Linked DNA regions of Homo sapiens: region 2 is linked to region 1. A link means that fine-mapping ties the variant in region 1 to the expression of a gene that starts in the linked region. Tissue or cell type: whole blood. Region 1 holds a variant in brackets; the other region holds the start of a gene. All regions are shown on one strand. Distances are from middle to middle.

What was found. PIP is the estimated chance that this variant, and not a neighbour inherited with it, causes the effect.
Region 2: DPM1 starts here. The variant in region 1 is fine-mapped to the expression of DPM1 in whole blood (Lepik 2017, PIP 0.95).

Annotation. Positions count from the first base shown.
Region 1 is chr20:51,121,562-51,129,665 of GRCh38, forward strand. All of the region lies in intron 1 of LOC105372661 (a long non-coding RNA gene), which reads left to right. LOC105372662 (a long non-coding RNA gene) reads right to left here and starts at 3,315. Exons shown (of 3, transcript XR_001754668.2): 1 at 3,232-3,315; 2 at 1,065-1,218. The variant C/G (reference allele first, on the strand shown) is at 3,602.
Region 2 is chr20:50,954,337-50,962,440 of GRCh38, forward strand. DPM1 (dolichyl-phosphate mannosyltransferase subunit 1, catalytic) reads right to left here and starts at 4,196. Exons shown (of 9, transcript NM_003859.3): 1 at 4,027-4,196; 2 at 850-949. The coding sequence starts at 4,187. It overlaps MOCS3 (molybdenum cofactor synthesis 3), which reads left to right and starts at 4,482. Exons shown (of 1, transcript NM_014484.5): 1 at 4,482-8,104. The coding sequence starts at 4,507. The coding sequence ends at 5,889. RefSeq lists enhancers at 3,953-4,442, 4,655-5,265.

The DNA of each region.
Region 1 (8,104 bases):
GATAACACGTTCTCTTCCTGAGTCCTGGGCTCACAGAACATGTAGCCCTCATAGGCTCAGGGGTTGATTCTGGAGGACTCTGCATCTCTTTGCAGAAATGCAAAATTGAAATGTCAGCCTGGACATCTTCCCAGGGAAGTCCAGGTCTTTGCAAGGGATGGGATACCTGTTGGACAAATTTCTAGCTAATTGATTTTCTTAAGTCTAGCCTTGCTTCCTAGAAGTTTAAAATCGAGTAGGGAGGCATCCTGAGGGGGCATGTGCTGTTTGGTTTTAATATTGCTGACAAATAGTGTCATCCTAAACCCCCAGAGTCCTCTGCCTCCACCCAGGCTGTTCACCTGGGATCCCTTGGACCTCACTGATATCCAGCAACTAAAGGGTTAATGCCTAGCCCAGCAGGGGATGCTGCCCAAAGCTGGAGTCACAGTTTGTTCTGATTTAGTCAATACTGGCCTCTCCCTCATGACACCGATGGTTAAATATTCAGAACATTACTCCAGAGGCAATGTATACAGTCATGAAACAAGCCACAGTAAAAAATGCTGCAGAATGTCTGTCATAAGGGCTAGAGCAAGTGGCAATGACCCCCCCACCACCCCATCTGATGGGCAGCAAGCTGCTTCTCTGGAAGATGTCCATCCTCTTTCTCAGGCCACCTCCACACTGAGCCAGTCCTCTTCCCGTCTCACCTGGATTCTTCCCTTAGCCTCCTCTCTGGCCTCCCTGCCTCTACCCTCACCCCTGAGCCAATCCATCCTCCATACAGCAGCCAGAAAAACAAGTTTGGTCACACCAACCCTCTGCTTAAAACCACCCCATGGTTTTCTGTGCTCACGGTCAGGCTAAAGCTCCCAGTTCCCTTTAGAGCAATCTCTGCAATGTGCAGTTATACATTTGTTTGTTTTGTTTATTTTTGGTCTCCATCCCGGAATGGCAGGCCCAACAAAGACTCTCTAGTGTTTATATCCAGTGTCTAGCGCAGTGTCTGGCACACAGTAGGTGCTCAATAGATGTTTGCTTAGTCAGAGAAAGAATAAATGAATGGATGACTGAGCACTCACCGTGAGGTCTGCAAGAGCCCAGAAGGAGCGGGATGTTTCCTCGGCAGGTTATAATTTGCAGAGGCAGAGAAGAGATTGCCATTCAAGGCAAAGGAACGGTCAGGGCAAAGGCTGGGAGGTGGTGTGTAGGTGGCTTCATCTGCCCTACAGGGCTCTGTCAGCAAGAAGACAATACAGGGAAGGGACTGAGAGCGTGGGGTTCTGAGTCAAAGGCCCTGGGTTCAAGTCCTGGCTCCACTATTATTAGCTGATGACCTTGGGAATGAGGTCACCTTTGTTTGACTCAGTTTTCTCATCTTACAAATGAGACGATGATGATCTCTACCTTATAGAACTGTTTTGAGGACTAAATGAGATAACATAAGTCTGGGTGAAAAAAAAAGGCTCAATAAATGTCAGTGAGTGTGTTTGATTCTGGGAAAGAAATAACACTTGCCAAGTATTTTCTGTGCAGGGCATGTACTGAGCCGCTCATTTAATCCTTTTAGCAACCCGGTGAGGTTTACTTTCGTATTTCAGTTTGACAGATGAATGTGACATTCTCCCCTGTCATGGGTATCCCAGCACCTGGTTTATTGTGGTTGATTCAGTGCGGTGATGTTTAACCCTTGCCTGGGCATTAGAATTACTTGGGGAGTTGCTGTAAAATACCCACACTTCCCACCACCGGCCAGCCAAATAAATCAGAATTTTTGGGGAAAGGCCCAGGTATCAGTATTTTTTAAAACTCCCTAGATGATCCTAATAGACCAGCCAAATGGTCTAAGTTTGGATGTGAAAGACTGTGTGGTTGTCACAGTGAGCCCCAGGACTGGGGCTAGGACTTGAGGATGGGGGCTGTGAGGCACTTCTTACTCTGACTACTGACAGCAAAGCCAGACAAGTCACTTCATAGAGGAGACTCGGAAATCTGTTACCACCCAGTGTGGGCATGCCTGGAGTGTGGCTTTCAAGTGCTCAGCAATATTGCTTGGTGGAGTCTTCAAATCACAAGCATCCCTCACTTTTATGGGGCTGTCTGCTCCAGGCATCCAATTTGTATTAGCGAAAGCTCCCTCTCCTTCATAGGAGGGTGTAACAAAAGGGAACCCAAGACATATAGATATTTTCTCTGTGCTTGTCTGGGGGCTGACTGTTCCCAGATCTTATTGAAAGAGGCCAGGCATGGTGGCTTACGTCTGTAATCCCAGCACTTTGGGAGGCTGAGGCAGGCGGATCACCTGAAGTTGGGAGTTCGAGACCAGCCTGGCCAACATGGAGAAACCTCATCTCTACAAAAAATACAAAATTAGCTGGGCATGGTGGTGCATGTCTGTAATCCCAGCTACTTGGGAGGCTGAGGTAGCAGAATCACTTGAACTTGGGAGGTGGAAGTTGCAGTGAGTCGAGATCATGCCATTGCACTGCAGCCTGGACAACAAGAGTGAAACTCTGTCTTAAATAAATAAATAAATAAATAAATAAATAAATAAATAAATAGCTAGCTAGCTTTGGGGCCTGAACCTGACTTCTCCTAAAACTGTTGGTCTGCTATGTTACTTTCAACCCCTTCCTATAGCAATTTGTGAAATAAGTCATTTCTCTAATTAAAAAACCAACCAACTAACCAACAGGATGCCTAGTTAAATTAGAAATGTAGCTACACAATGAATAACATTGCATGATACAGTAAAAAAAAAAAATTACTTATTGTGTACCTGAAATTCAAATTTACCTGAGTGTTCTGCAGTTTATCTGGCAACCCTACCTGGGTCTCACTTTCTGGGGCTACTTCAGAGTTAATAGCATGGACATTAACACCACAGACATCCTCCTTGGAACCCAGCTCTGTCCCTTAAGTGGTAACTGAGCTGCAGGCAAGACATTTAACTTTTGAATGGTAAATGCTTCTTTTCCCATAAGCAAATACAGATAATAATAGTACCTGTTTCTTGTGGTTATTGTAACTGTAAAATAGAATCATCTATCTAAAGTACATACTAAGTGCTCGATAAATGGTAACTGTTATTATATTTACTGTATCAGGAAACAATATCAGCAATGTATTTTTGGTTTATAATGATAAGAATTATAAATTCCTTTTATTCTGTCTATAAGAAGAATGTATGTATATTATGGAAAATTAGAAAATGCAGATAGATACGAGAAAGAAAGAAAATCTACTCACATTTTTAACGTTTGCTGATTACTCTTCCAGTATTTTTCCTTAAAAATATATCTGTATCTGGCCAGGCATGGTGGCTCATGCCTGTAATTCCAGCACTTTGACAGGCAGAGGCAGGCAGATCACCTGAGGTCAGGAGTTTGATACCAGCCTGATCAACATGGAGGAACCCCATCTCTACTAAAAATACAAAATTGGCTGGGCGTTGTGGCACATGGCTGTAATCCCAGCTACTCAGGAGGCTCAGGCAGGAGAATCGCTTGAACCTGGGAGGCAGAGGTTGTGGTGAGCCAAGATCGCGCCATTGCACTCTAGCCTGGGCAACAAGAGTGAAACTCCGTCTCAAAAAAAAAAAAACAATCTATATCTATAT[C/G]TATGTATCTATCTATCTCTGTACAGAATAGTTTTGTGCTGTGGGTCCTGCTTTTTTTTTTTTTCACTTAACATTATATGACATTTGAACTTTGAACAACATGGGTTTGAAGTGCGCGGGTCCACTTATAGAAGGAGTTTTTTCAGTACAAGTGACACCCAGCGTGCCTGCCTTGCCTGCTTTCCCTTCCACCTCCTCCCCATCTTCTGCCTCTGCCACCCCCAAGACAGCAAGACCAACCTCTCCCTTTTCTCCTCCTTGTCAGCCTGTTCGACATGAAAAGAGGATAAAGATCTTTATAGTGATCCACTTCCCTTTGATGAATAGTAAATATATTTTCTCTTCCTCATGATTTTCTTAATAACAGTTTCTTTTCTCTAACTTACTTTATTGTAAGAATATAGCATATAACACACACAACATACAAAAATATGTATTACTCGGCTATTAGTAAGGTGTTAGTCAGTATTAGGCTATTAGTTAATGTTTTGGGGAAGTCCAGAGTTCTGTGAAAATTTTTGACTGCGTGGGGATCAGTGTCTCTGACTCCTGCATGGTTCAAGTGTCAACTGAATAAGTATTTCTCTAAGTTGTTAGATATTCTTTGAAAATCTAATTTTCACTGTAGAGATATAGACAAATGTATTTAGCCAATCTTATGCTGATCATCCAAGTTTTTGTTGCTATTATAAATAGTACTGCAATGAGCTCTTTATCTTTTATTAAACATTGCGCTAGAGCTCAGTCGGCCCCTCTGAAGCCTGTCTCAAAGCATGGTCTTCTGGTTTGTGTTTCTGGCTGCCTGGCCGCTGCTTTTGCCAGAGTGCCTTGCCAAAACCCAAGACAAATGGATTTCAGCCTTGATGGGTAGGCCCAGGGCTGCTCAGAGGCCCATTTTGTCACTCTCTGTCTTTTGGAAGTGGAGCTGGCTCTCTGCTGAAATGTACAAACACAGAATCCTTTTTGATCAAGGGGAGATCCTTTTCTAGCCTTGGGACTCAGTCCGTTCTGTTCCTGGCTGCATGCGTGCCATCTCCGTTGATTGTCGTTGTCTTTCTTGTTTCATGGAACTGGAAAAACAAAACCAAACCAAAAACCTTCCAAGGTTCTGAAGTCCTCATATCCTTAAAAATCCATCAGAAAGCCCCGAAGCTTCCGCTGCTGAGTTTGCCTTTTCCAGCCTTGCCTGATCTCACTTGGGAACATGACTACCCAATAACTCAGTTGCAGCAATGGTGGGAGAACAGAGCCACCAAATACAAGCAACGTCCTGGAGAGAAGGGCGCTTACAGGCAGAGGCGAGGCACACTGAAGCAATCAGTCCTGCTGTACAGGTTTTCTTAATGTTTTGACATTTTAAGTTCAGAGAACATAGCTTGGTTTTATAAAATAGTTTCAGTCCAGAGGACAGAGGGCACAAAAGTCTCCAAACAAGTTCTTCTGGGTGGAAGACACTATGAGTGGCTCTTTACCTGCTTTGCCATCATTTTTGCCCCAGAACCTTATGGAATATATTAAGTCACTGCATGGGTCCACTTATACAAGGATATTTTTCAACACAAGTTACACTCAGTGTGCCTGCCTCACCTGCCTTCCTTCCACCTCCTCTGCCTCTGCCACTGCTCAGACAGCAGGACCAACCCTTCCCTTTTCTCCTCCTAGTCAGCCTGTTCAACATGAAGAGAGGGTGAAGATCTTTTTAACGATCCACTTCCATTTGATGAATAGTAAATATATTTTCTCTTCCTTGCAATTTTCTTAAGTTTCTTCCCTAGCTTTTCTTCCTGCCATTACTTTTGCACCAACCTAATATCCAGTGCAGATTTGAGGCAATGAATTGATTTAATTGCAGGGCTCATTTGAGCCCCTAGCATGTCTTTGTGTATGCACAATTATTTTTTCTAAACTGGTTGAGTTTGAAAATGTAATAACTTTGCCCAGACCCACACAGCCATTTTCTTCCCAGAGAATCAATGTAATTTGCATGTGTTATTCGGCCACAGGACAATAGAGCAGTGCAGCTCTTGTTGATTTTGAAGAGCTGCTGATCGCCTTGTTTGAGAAGTCAGGGCCCAGGAAGGCAGCCAGGATGATGCAGGGCTTGTCAATTTCCAGGTGAATTCAGCAGGCAAGTGGGAGCGGCAGGTGCTGGTCAGCTTGGGTTTCAACCTCATCCTTCATACGTGCCAGCTTTGAGACTTTGGCAAGTTACTTCAGCTTTCTGTGCCTTATTTTCCTCATCTGTAAAATGGGATAATAAACGACTCTACCTCATAGAATTCTTTTGACTCATAAATGAATTATTACGCGTTAAGCACTCCAAATACTGCCTAGTTCATTGTTAGTATTATTTATTAAGCTCCAAGTGGTATTTGGACTTCTTAAATGAGAATCACCAAAAGCAGGGCTTCTCAAACTTTAATGTGCACATAAAACACCTAGAGATCTCCTTTAAGTACACATTCCGATTTAATAGGTTGAAGGGCAGGCCTGGGAGTTTGCATTGGCAGGTGCAGCGACTATCGGAGGTGATAGCCAAGATGCTGTTTGAAGACCATGCTTTGAGGTTCAAGGACTTTGAGAACTTAGGGTAAAATTGCAGATTCCCAGGCCCAAGCCCAGACTGTCGGTTTCAGGACCTCTAAGGGTTGGTCCCAGGATCCAAGTGTTTAACGAGCCTCCTAGGTGATTCAAACACACTGAAGCTTGACAGGCTAGAATGAGTTAATTTTAGTGTAAGGAAGATGTGGCTTGTTCATAACCTTTGTGGGAGAGAATGTGTCACTCTGTGTTTAGGACTTAGGTTTCTTCTTCTCTCCTTTCATTTTCCTTCTTCTCTTTCTTCATTCCTCCCAGGCCAGGCAGCACAGCTCAGTGGTTAGAGCATCTCCTCTGGATTTGCCTCGCGATCTCACCATTAGCAGTGATACCTTTATGGAAGCATGTGCTATGAGAGGACTGTGAAAGGGAACCCAAGGGTTGATTTGGGAAGCTGGCAGTCATCGGCCAAATCCTGACCATCTTGGGCTGACTGCTGCAGAGGGTGCAGGTCAGAGTGTATCATCATATATGTTCTGGCCACTGGCTTTGGACAGTAGTATATGTGGGTGTTTGTTCTCCTCTGGATGATAAACAGCTCAACAACAGTGCCCTTTTTTGCTCTTCTTGGGCCTTCCCCAGCGCAAGACTTGACATCTGAGCTCATCAGTGCTTCCTGAATGAGTGAATAAAAGACGTGCTGCAGCCACTGAGTCATGCACCACTGAGCTATTGCAAGCTGAAAGGAACTCAGCGGTTCATAAACACTGGCTTTGACCACCTTAGCTCAATTCAAGTCAGCAAATATTAGTGATCATGTATCTTGCATCAGGGCCCATACCCGAAGCCACAGAAAGTCCTGGGGGCAGCCAGATCCAATAATTATAATTTCTCTGTAAGTTTTCCTATGCCTCGCTTATATTTGAAGCATGATTACAATGGAATCCAACTGGCCATACAATCAGTATTTGTAAAATAAAAACGAAATCAGCTCTACATGCTGTCATTTCCAAGATGATGTTAATGGAGGTACTCTTGTTTTACCTTCACAACCACATTAGGAGGTAGGTATTCTTATTGTCCACATTTTACTGATGAGCAAACTGAGGCTCTGAGAAGATAACTCATCTGGCACCTGGCAGTGGGGAACTTGAACCGGGGTCTGGAACTCCGCCTGTTCCATAGGCTGGTGGTAGGGCATAGGAAGCGGGTCGTGGATGGACTTGGGCAAGAAGAATAGAGGTGCAGTTCCCCTGAGAAAGGGGGAGGGATGCTGGTCATCGGGACACAGCTGAGGTTGCCACGCCACATCCCCTCCTCCAGGCATGCACAGCATTGTGGGAGGGGGCTGGCCTGTCACACCCTCAACACTGAGACCCATCAATGAGAAGAATTTCCTGAGTTTATAAAACAGCAACAGGTTAGGCAGCATCATGAGTGAATTGATCACCAAGCTGAATCTTACTTAACTCCTAGCTTTAAAATAATCGGCAGGAAGGAGAACAAAAAGCCACACGTGTGTTTACACACAGGCACCCCGCCCTGCAGGCCCCAAGGAGAGGTTCAAATCAAGGCAGCCTTTCCTGTGGGCGTGGGTGAGGTGCCCCGCACAGGAGCCAGCTTTGCACTTAGTGCAGACTAGACAGCCATGTAGTTTAGCAGGGGCAGCATTGACAGAAACCAGAGAGCTGTAAATGCCACACTGGGGTGGCTGGGCCACATGTGCTATTAACCAGACAGTCTTGTTCCATGTCTGGAGTCTGAGCACATTTTAGGCCCTGGTGGCTGGGCAGCACCCTGTGGGGACCGTTAACCACTTAGCTGAGACCCGTTGAGCAGATGCCTCTGAAATCTATGCTGGTTTGAACCCCCCCTGGGGTATTTTGTGCTCTTAGGGACACCATAGTAATTGATGTAATATGCCTAAGATGGACTGAAACTGTCTGATATTGGAATAAATTTAGC
Region 2 (8,104 bases), 170 kb before region 1:
GGGGAGGGGGGTTTCTAGTGGCATCTAGTGAGAAGAGTCCAGATGCGGTGCTGAACATCCTACAATAAACACGACAACCCCCACAGTAAAGAATTAATCTGTCCACACGTCAATAGTGCCAAGACTGAAAAACTGTGGTCTGCAATAATTTGTGAATATAAATTATAAAAGAGCTCGAGTATACATAAACATTTGTAAATACAAACCGGTAACCAAAAATAAAATTCATGAAGCCATTATAAAATAAACTCTATATTTGCCTAAGTAACTTCTATATTAGAATAACAAGTTTCAAGGTACAGTGGGTGAATCTAAAGTTTAGGACTAATACAGTCAATCTACTTTCACAAGACTATTCTATAGACTAAAAATGCCAAGTACTCTAAGAAGTCATTAATGTTTCACAAGAAAACAGTAACTTTTTCTACCTACACGCTCTTAATTTCAGGCAGTATTCTCTAATGAAAGCATGAGAATACTTACCGAAAGGGAGCAAGAAAGATTAAGACACACACACACTACCAATTATAACCCAATTATATAATATTCCTTGTCAATTCAGTATCATGCTTTAATTTTTGCCCTTCAAGAAAATTTATCTGCAGAATTAGTTATAAACAGAGTTCATCCAAAAGCTCACTCTTTGCTGTAAAATGACCACTGACCCAACATACCAAAGATATGTAAAATTTTACGGACAACAAAAATGCATTTAAATCCCAAATGCGTAAGTTGCTCTTTATCTTTTCAGTTTCTAAACAAATAGATTGAATTTAAGCATTGTTCATGTCTCATCTTTCCCCTACATAATCACAATTCATATCACAGAAAAATGTTCTTATAACTTACAATTCTGTCTGACCCATAGATCTTCTCCAACTGTTCAGCAACATCCCTTGTTCCATCTGGGCTTCCATCATCTATGATTATAATTTCATAGTTGATTCCACTAAAAAAATTAAATTTGTATTAATGACTGATGACAGTGTTCTCAAATTTAAAAGTAATTTAAAAATTACTAATTCCTTAAAAGTATAAATGGAGATGTATTGCTATATTAATCGTTGAGGAAAACTTCAATTATCAAATGAAATAAATGTCAAACATTTAGTACTTTACCTCCAAACCCAGTATGTTGCTGAAACATGCTAATGTCCTGAGATATTAAAGAATTCCTACACAGAGAACAAACTTTTTAGTTCAAAAGAAAATCACGTAATGACCTATGTATCATATGAATTTTTTTTGTTTTGAGATGGAGTCTTGCTCTGTTGCCAGGCTGGAATGCAGTGGCGCAGTCTCGGCTTACCTCTGCCTCCTGGCCTCAAGCAATTCTCCTGCCTCAGCCTCCGGAGTAGCTGGGACTACAGGCGCCCACCACCACGCCCGGCTAATTTTTTGTATTTTTAGTAGAGACGGGGTTTCACCGTGTTAGCCAGCCTGGTCTCAATCTCCTGACCTCGTGATCTGCCCGCCTCAGCCTCCCAAAATGCTGGGATTACAGGCATGAGCCTCCGTGCCCAGCCATATGAAATTTTATTACCTATTTGGAAATAATATTCTGAACCTTAATAGCAAATCTTAGTTACATAAAATATTTCAAAAGTACTTTACATGGTAACTCAAACCAAACTGAGTAACTCAGTGATTATTCTTGTTAATCTGATCCAAATAGAATAATCAAGTATAAATCTGATTTAATTTCATCTTTAAAAAAACCGATTTTAGAATGGTGACATTATCTTAAACCACAATTTCAAATAGTTGTGCCTATTACCTCACATTATCAAATTAAAAAAACAAAAGCAGAGTAGCATTACAAAAGATTCCACTGTGCTTCAGAATTAACATCTGTTACTTCCCATTAATCTCAGGTGGTAGTTTCTAGTCTAAAAACAAACCAACACAATACTTGGTGGATAAATAATACCTACGACATAACATTCCGTTTTCTCTTGGTCCTGCTTTAAGAAACAAATACAAGAGGCTGGGCGCGGTGGCTCACACCTGTAATCCCAGCACTTTGGGAGGCCGAGGCAGGCGGATCACGAGGTCAGGATATCGAGACCATCCTGGCTAACACAGTGAAACCCCGTCTCTACTAAAAAGAACCCGGGAGGCGGGGCCTGCAGTGAGCCAAGATGGCGCCACCGCACTCCAGCCTGGGCAACAGAGCAAGACTCCGTCTCCAAAAGAAAAAAAAAAAAAAGAAAAAGAAAAAAGAAACAAATACAAGAAAATCAACCAGAAAACATATTCCACTGTTAAAGGCTTTAACAAGTCAGCCCCAGCAAACTTTGAAGACAAGAAAGCAAACCCCTGTGTTATCTATTCTCCAAGAGTAGAACAATGACTTTGGCTTCCCACTGTGCCTTAAATCTGGGCACTGGTGCCTTTACATGCCAAAATATGTAAGGTGATTTTAATAGACGTGCTGAAAGAGAAATTCCATAAACAAAATGGGGTCGTTAAAAGCAAATTACTGTCCCCTACCACTTCAAAGCAGCTACACCACCTGAGGGTGAGGCAGCTCAAAGGTACCAAGCTGGGCTGACTTCAAGTAATTTGATTGCATCTGAAAAGTTTTGTTTCCTTTATCAAACTTCATTTTGATCTTAAAAGATTGATTCACAAACCATTAAAAGGAAACATAAATTGTACTACATAAAAAAATTAAAACAGCAAAAAAAAAAATTGCAAAATTAGAATACAAGCCCTGAACGAGATCGGTTGTATGATAGTTACTTTCTTTAATTTAGAGCTTATAGAAATCAAAATTAAAAGATTAAACAGGAAAAATAAAAATTTTAAAACTCTGAGGGGCAAGGCATATGAAGGCAGTTATTCAAGGAAATACAATCAAAACAGCAATGGTTTTCACAAATGAGTACTTCCAACAATGTTAAGTCTAATGCTCAGGCGGGCTGGTTGATAGGGAAACAGGCACTCTGAAGAATGGAGAGTCCAAACTTGTACAACCTTTTTTTTCTTTAGAGCAATTTGGCAGTAACTGTCCATTTTAAGCACATTTCTGTCGACCCAGCAATCCTACCTCGAAGAATTTATCCCTAGTACACAAGTAAAAGTATGAACGCGTCTGCTGCCAACACTGATGCAATAAAGGAGCACCGCTATGTGTCAAGCACTTTTCTAAATTTAGCTGGAAAATATGGTGTGAACAAAGTCCTTGTTCTCATCGACAAAGCAAAAGCCAAAAAACAGAAACAACCAAAAGGCGCTGGAAATAATCCAGTTCATTGCCATGACCTGATTAAATAAATAACACAGCCATATGGAATGTTACCTAACTTCCAAAGTAATTTGCTATGTTTGTACATGTTAATATGAGAAAAAGTCTTCAAAGATTTCACAGCATGATCCCATTTGTGCAATCGTAAAACAAGTTACTTCGTACTGACTCCAGGATTTTTTGCAGTTTTTAAAAACACTGCATTAACACTTCCAAATTCGAACTCCACCCACCCCCCATCCCGGTTCTAACAATCACACCAAACATCCACCAGTGATCAGCGAAGATGCTCTTCTGCTTTCTCCTTTCCAGAAAGGTTATCGTGCCCAGCAATAGCTCCCTAACCCACACACACCAAACCTCATGCTTATGTAAGCACTCGGCACCGGAGCGGAGAGTGAGAGCTCTCGCTTGGACTCCCGGCTCTTGCCGCAGATCCTGACCGCCTAGAGGGAGGAGTGGGATCACGCTTTCAGCCTCGCTTCCAAGTAAAAGAGTGGCCAACCTTTCTACGGAAAGGCGGGGGACGGGAGTACTACATAATAAAGATAAATGAGAGTCTCACAAAACCCAAGGGCAGGAATGAGAACCCAGGACACGAAGAAAACCCAACAAGCATCCGCCTCTGCTTCCCTCGCAGGGTGGCCCTCTCCCCGGGCCTTCCTGTGTGAGGCAAAGAAGGCTGGACAGGGCCGCTTCGCGCAGCCAGCTGCCGACACCCGGGCCGGGGAAGCCAGCTCATCTCATTCTTCGGGGAGGGAGACCTGGTGCGCTACCTCTCGGAGAAGCTTTTCACCAGCAGCCACACGATGAGCGGCAGGTTCTCGCGCTCGTTGTAGGTAGGTAAAAGCACCGAATATTTGTTCTGTCGTGGACTGCGCACTTCCAGCTCCCGCCGAGACCTGCGAGGACTACGACTGACTTCCAAGGAGGCCATGGCGGAACTGAGCCAGATGCCGGAAGCGGAATTACGTAATGTGGCGCGGAAAAGGACGGGTCGGACCGTACCAAATTCGGAAGCGGGGGATGACCTGTGTGATTGATCGCTAGTTCTTCTAGGGCCATTGCGTGGTTCAATTAGAAATATTCTGGATTTATACATCTTTGAAGTTTAATCTGAAGGTTTCTTCAGGAAGTAAATATCTATTCATCACCTTTTCCCAAGCTCCATAAAGTTTTTTAGTTTATCCCAGTCGCTAGGAGACAGAAGACGGAAGCGGAAATGCCTTTCACGACAACTTCCGGAAGAGGTCGCCATGGCTTCCCGGGAGGAGGTACTCGCCTTACAAGCTGAAGTTGCCCAACGTGAGGAGGAATTGAATTCGCTGAAGCAGAAGCTGGCGTCGGCTCTTTTGGCTGAGCAGGAACCGCAGCCAGAACGGCTGGTTCCGGTGTCGCCGCTGCCGCCGAAGGCCGCTCTGTCCCGAGATGAGATTCTGCGCTATAGCCGGCAGCTAGTGCTGCCCGAGCTGGGCGTGCACGGACAGCTGCGCCTGGGGACCGCGTGCGTGCTAATCGTGGGCTGCGGTGGGCTCGGCTGTCCACTAGCGCAGTACTTGGCAGCGGCCGGCGTGGGCCGCCTTGGCCTTGTGGACTATGACGTGGTAGAGATGAGCAACCTGGCCCGCCAAGTGCTGCATGGCGAGGCACTGGCTGGCCAGGCCAAGGCCTTTTCGGCCGCCGCCTCGCTGCGCCGCCTCAATTCGGCAGTGGAATGCGTGCCGTACACTCAGGCCCTTACGCCAGCCACTGCCCTAGACCTGGTCCGCCGATATGATGTGGTGGCTGACTGCTCGGACAACGTGCCCACTCGCTACCTGGTTAATGACGCATGTGTGCTGGCGGGTCGGCCCCTCGTGTCTGCCAGTGCCTTGCGCTTCGAGGGCCAAATCACAGTCTACCATTATGACGGTGGCCCTTGCTATCGCTGCATATTCCCCCAACCACCCCCAGCGGAGACAGTGACCAACTGCGCGGACGGCGGGGTGCTCGGTGTCGTTACCGGGGTCCTGGGCTGCCTGCAGGCCTTGGAAGTGCTGAAAATCGCTGCGGGTCTGGGCCCCTCTTACAGTGGCAGCTTGTTGCTCTTTGATGCCCTGAGAGGGCATTTCCGCTCTATTCGGCTGCGGAGCCGCAGGCTCGACTGTGCAGCTTGCGGGGAACGGCCCACTGTGACTGATCTGCTGGACTATGAAGCCTTCTGTGGCTCCTCAGCCACTGATAAATGCCGCTCCCTGCAACTACTGAGCCCAGAGGAGCGTGTTTCTGTCACCGACTATAAGCGACTGCTGGATTCTGGGGCATTCCACCTGTTGCTGGACGTCAGGCCTCAGGTGGAGGTGGACATTTGTCGTTTGCCTCATGCCCTACACATCCCTCTGAAACATTTGGAACGCAGGGATGCGGAGAGCCTGAAACTCTTAAAAGAAGCAATCTGGGAAGAGAAGCAGGGCACACAAGAAGGGGCTGCTGTCCCCATTTATGTGATTTGCAAACTGGGAAATGACTCACAGAAAGCCGTGAAGATCCTCCAGTCCTTATCAGCAGCTCAAGAGTTAGACCCTTTAACAGTTCGGGATGTTGTGGGGGGCCTCATGGCCTGGGCTGCCAAAATCGATGGAACATTTCCACAGTACTGAGGTGACTGGTATAGTCTGATGAGAAAGATGTGGATTGCCATAATACCTCAAAGATACACTTGTTTGCATTTTTCGGTAATATACATAGGAGCTGGGGATTCTACAGTATCTGTGAATACGTGGACTCCTTTTTATAAGGAGTTTTAAAAATTGTTATGTATTGGATGAATGACTTATTAATGGATTATACCGTTTCTGAGAACCATCATTTTTTTTTTCAGCACACGGAGGATGTCTTGGACATGTGAGATGTAACGTGACAGGATTTTGCATTTTAAACTGCAGATCATTTACATGTCCTTATTTTCCACCTCCCCCAGTCAAAATGCTTTCTAAATCATTTTCACAGATTATATACTTCGGATCTGTTTACTGTTCAGTTAAGAAATTCTTGGATCTTATTAATATTTCAGATGATAGAATACATCCTACAGAAATACATGTTTAAAATGTAAATTGTTTTAATTATTCAGAAAGAGGGTCATTCTATTTGGCCTTTTGAATTAGTATCAAAATGAGATTTTTTTTTTTTTTTTGAGATGGAATCTCTCTCTGTTGCCCAGGCTGGAGTGTAGTGGTGCGATCTCAGCTCACTGCAACCTCCGCCTCCCAGGTTCAAGCGATTCTCCTGCCTCAGCCTCCTGAGTAGCTGGGATTACAGGCGCACGCCACCACGCCTGGCTAATTTTTGTATTTTTAGTACAGAGGGGGTTTCACCATGTTTGTCAGGCTGGTCTCGAACTCCTGACCTCGTGATCCGCCTGCCTCGACTTCCCAGAGTGCTGGGATTACAGGCGTGAGCCACCACACCCTCCCGAGATCTTTAAAGTTTACCAAAATAAAGGAAACCACCTTTGTAGTCTGTCAGTGTCTCTTATAAATTGCTACTGTTTTCTTAAAGTTAACTTCAGGGTCCACCTTATGTTGCACACATATCACATCGTTTAAATTGCATACTATGGTTTGACTTGCTTTGGAATTTTCAAGTCAAAGTCCCAACCCTTTGCCTCTCCCCCTTTAATTTGCCTTTTCTCTTTTGATTTAATGTTTTTTTATTCCAGCATTTTATACTAATGTAAAATGTTTTTATGTTTGTTTACTTAACATTTTCATAAAATAGTAGGTAGTCTCACCAACTTCCAATATATACAACAACATTATAAGTAAAAATTTGATTTGTGAGTGCCTATCAGTGGCCAGATGAACTAATGGCTTGTCAGAAGGGGGCCTGTGACCTCCTGCTTGCTGCATGCAGGCTTATAATCATCAATTGCTGCTGTTGTTTTTTTAAGAATGGCAGAAATCACAGATACAACTATAAAATCTTTGTATTTCTGTTAACCATTTTTTTTAAAGCTTAAATGTATCATAAGCCAGCAAAAACCCTTTGTAGACCAGATTTACTTACCAGTTTGCAATTTGTGATATAGAATCTTGTTTTATTATAAGAGGGTGGTATTTAACAAATTCAAAATTAGTCATCACTTTTTAACTGTGAAACATTGTAACTAATTCTTTGAACAGGTATACTTAAAGTATGGTATACCCTTCTGTTATAAAGATGAAGCAGGTCTCTTATGACTGTTCCTGCCAACGAGTTATGGAGGTAAATGACTGTGACCTGGAGTGGAGAACAAAGATGGCTGGCCTGTGTTTTTCATCTCCTTCTTCCAGGGACAACTGATTCTGATACATAGCAGGAAACAAATAGCGACACACAGGAACAATTTCATATTCTAAAGACTGAAGTCCTAAAGTTATAGACAGTTGTAGTTCCTATAAACCTGGTTGTCACAGGGGACAGGCAAGAGAAGCTGACTAGCTAAGTGTTAAAAGGTTTACTAAAGTGATAGGAGGTGCTTTTGAGAATTTTGGGGACAGATTCAAGGCTGTACTTCTAGGAATGATGCCCGAAATCATGCACAAAACTGGCCTTAGGAGAACAGTGTCTATGTTGTGCTGCCCTATCAAGTACCGGAGGAAACGCCACTACAGTCTCACCAGTTTCACTTGACGTGCCCCCCCAACTCTCCCAGAAAGCCCAACACTTCAGCCACAGTCCATGTGTCGAGAAACAGAGTCACTACATTATTCTTTTCTGAGTCAAGCCTTATGAGGGTGCCTGGTAGGCAGAGTCTAATTACATGCCTACATCTTAGCTGCAAGAGAGGCTGGGAATTTGTGTTTTGATATCTACAATAGGAAGACAGAACTC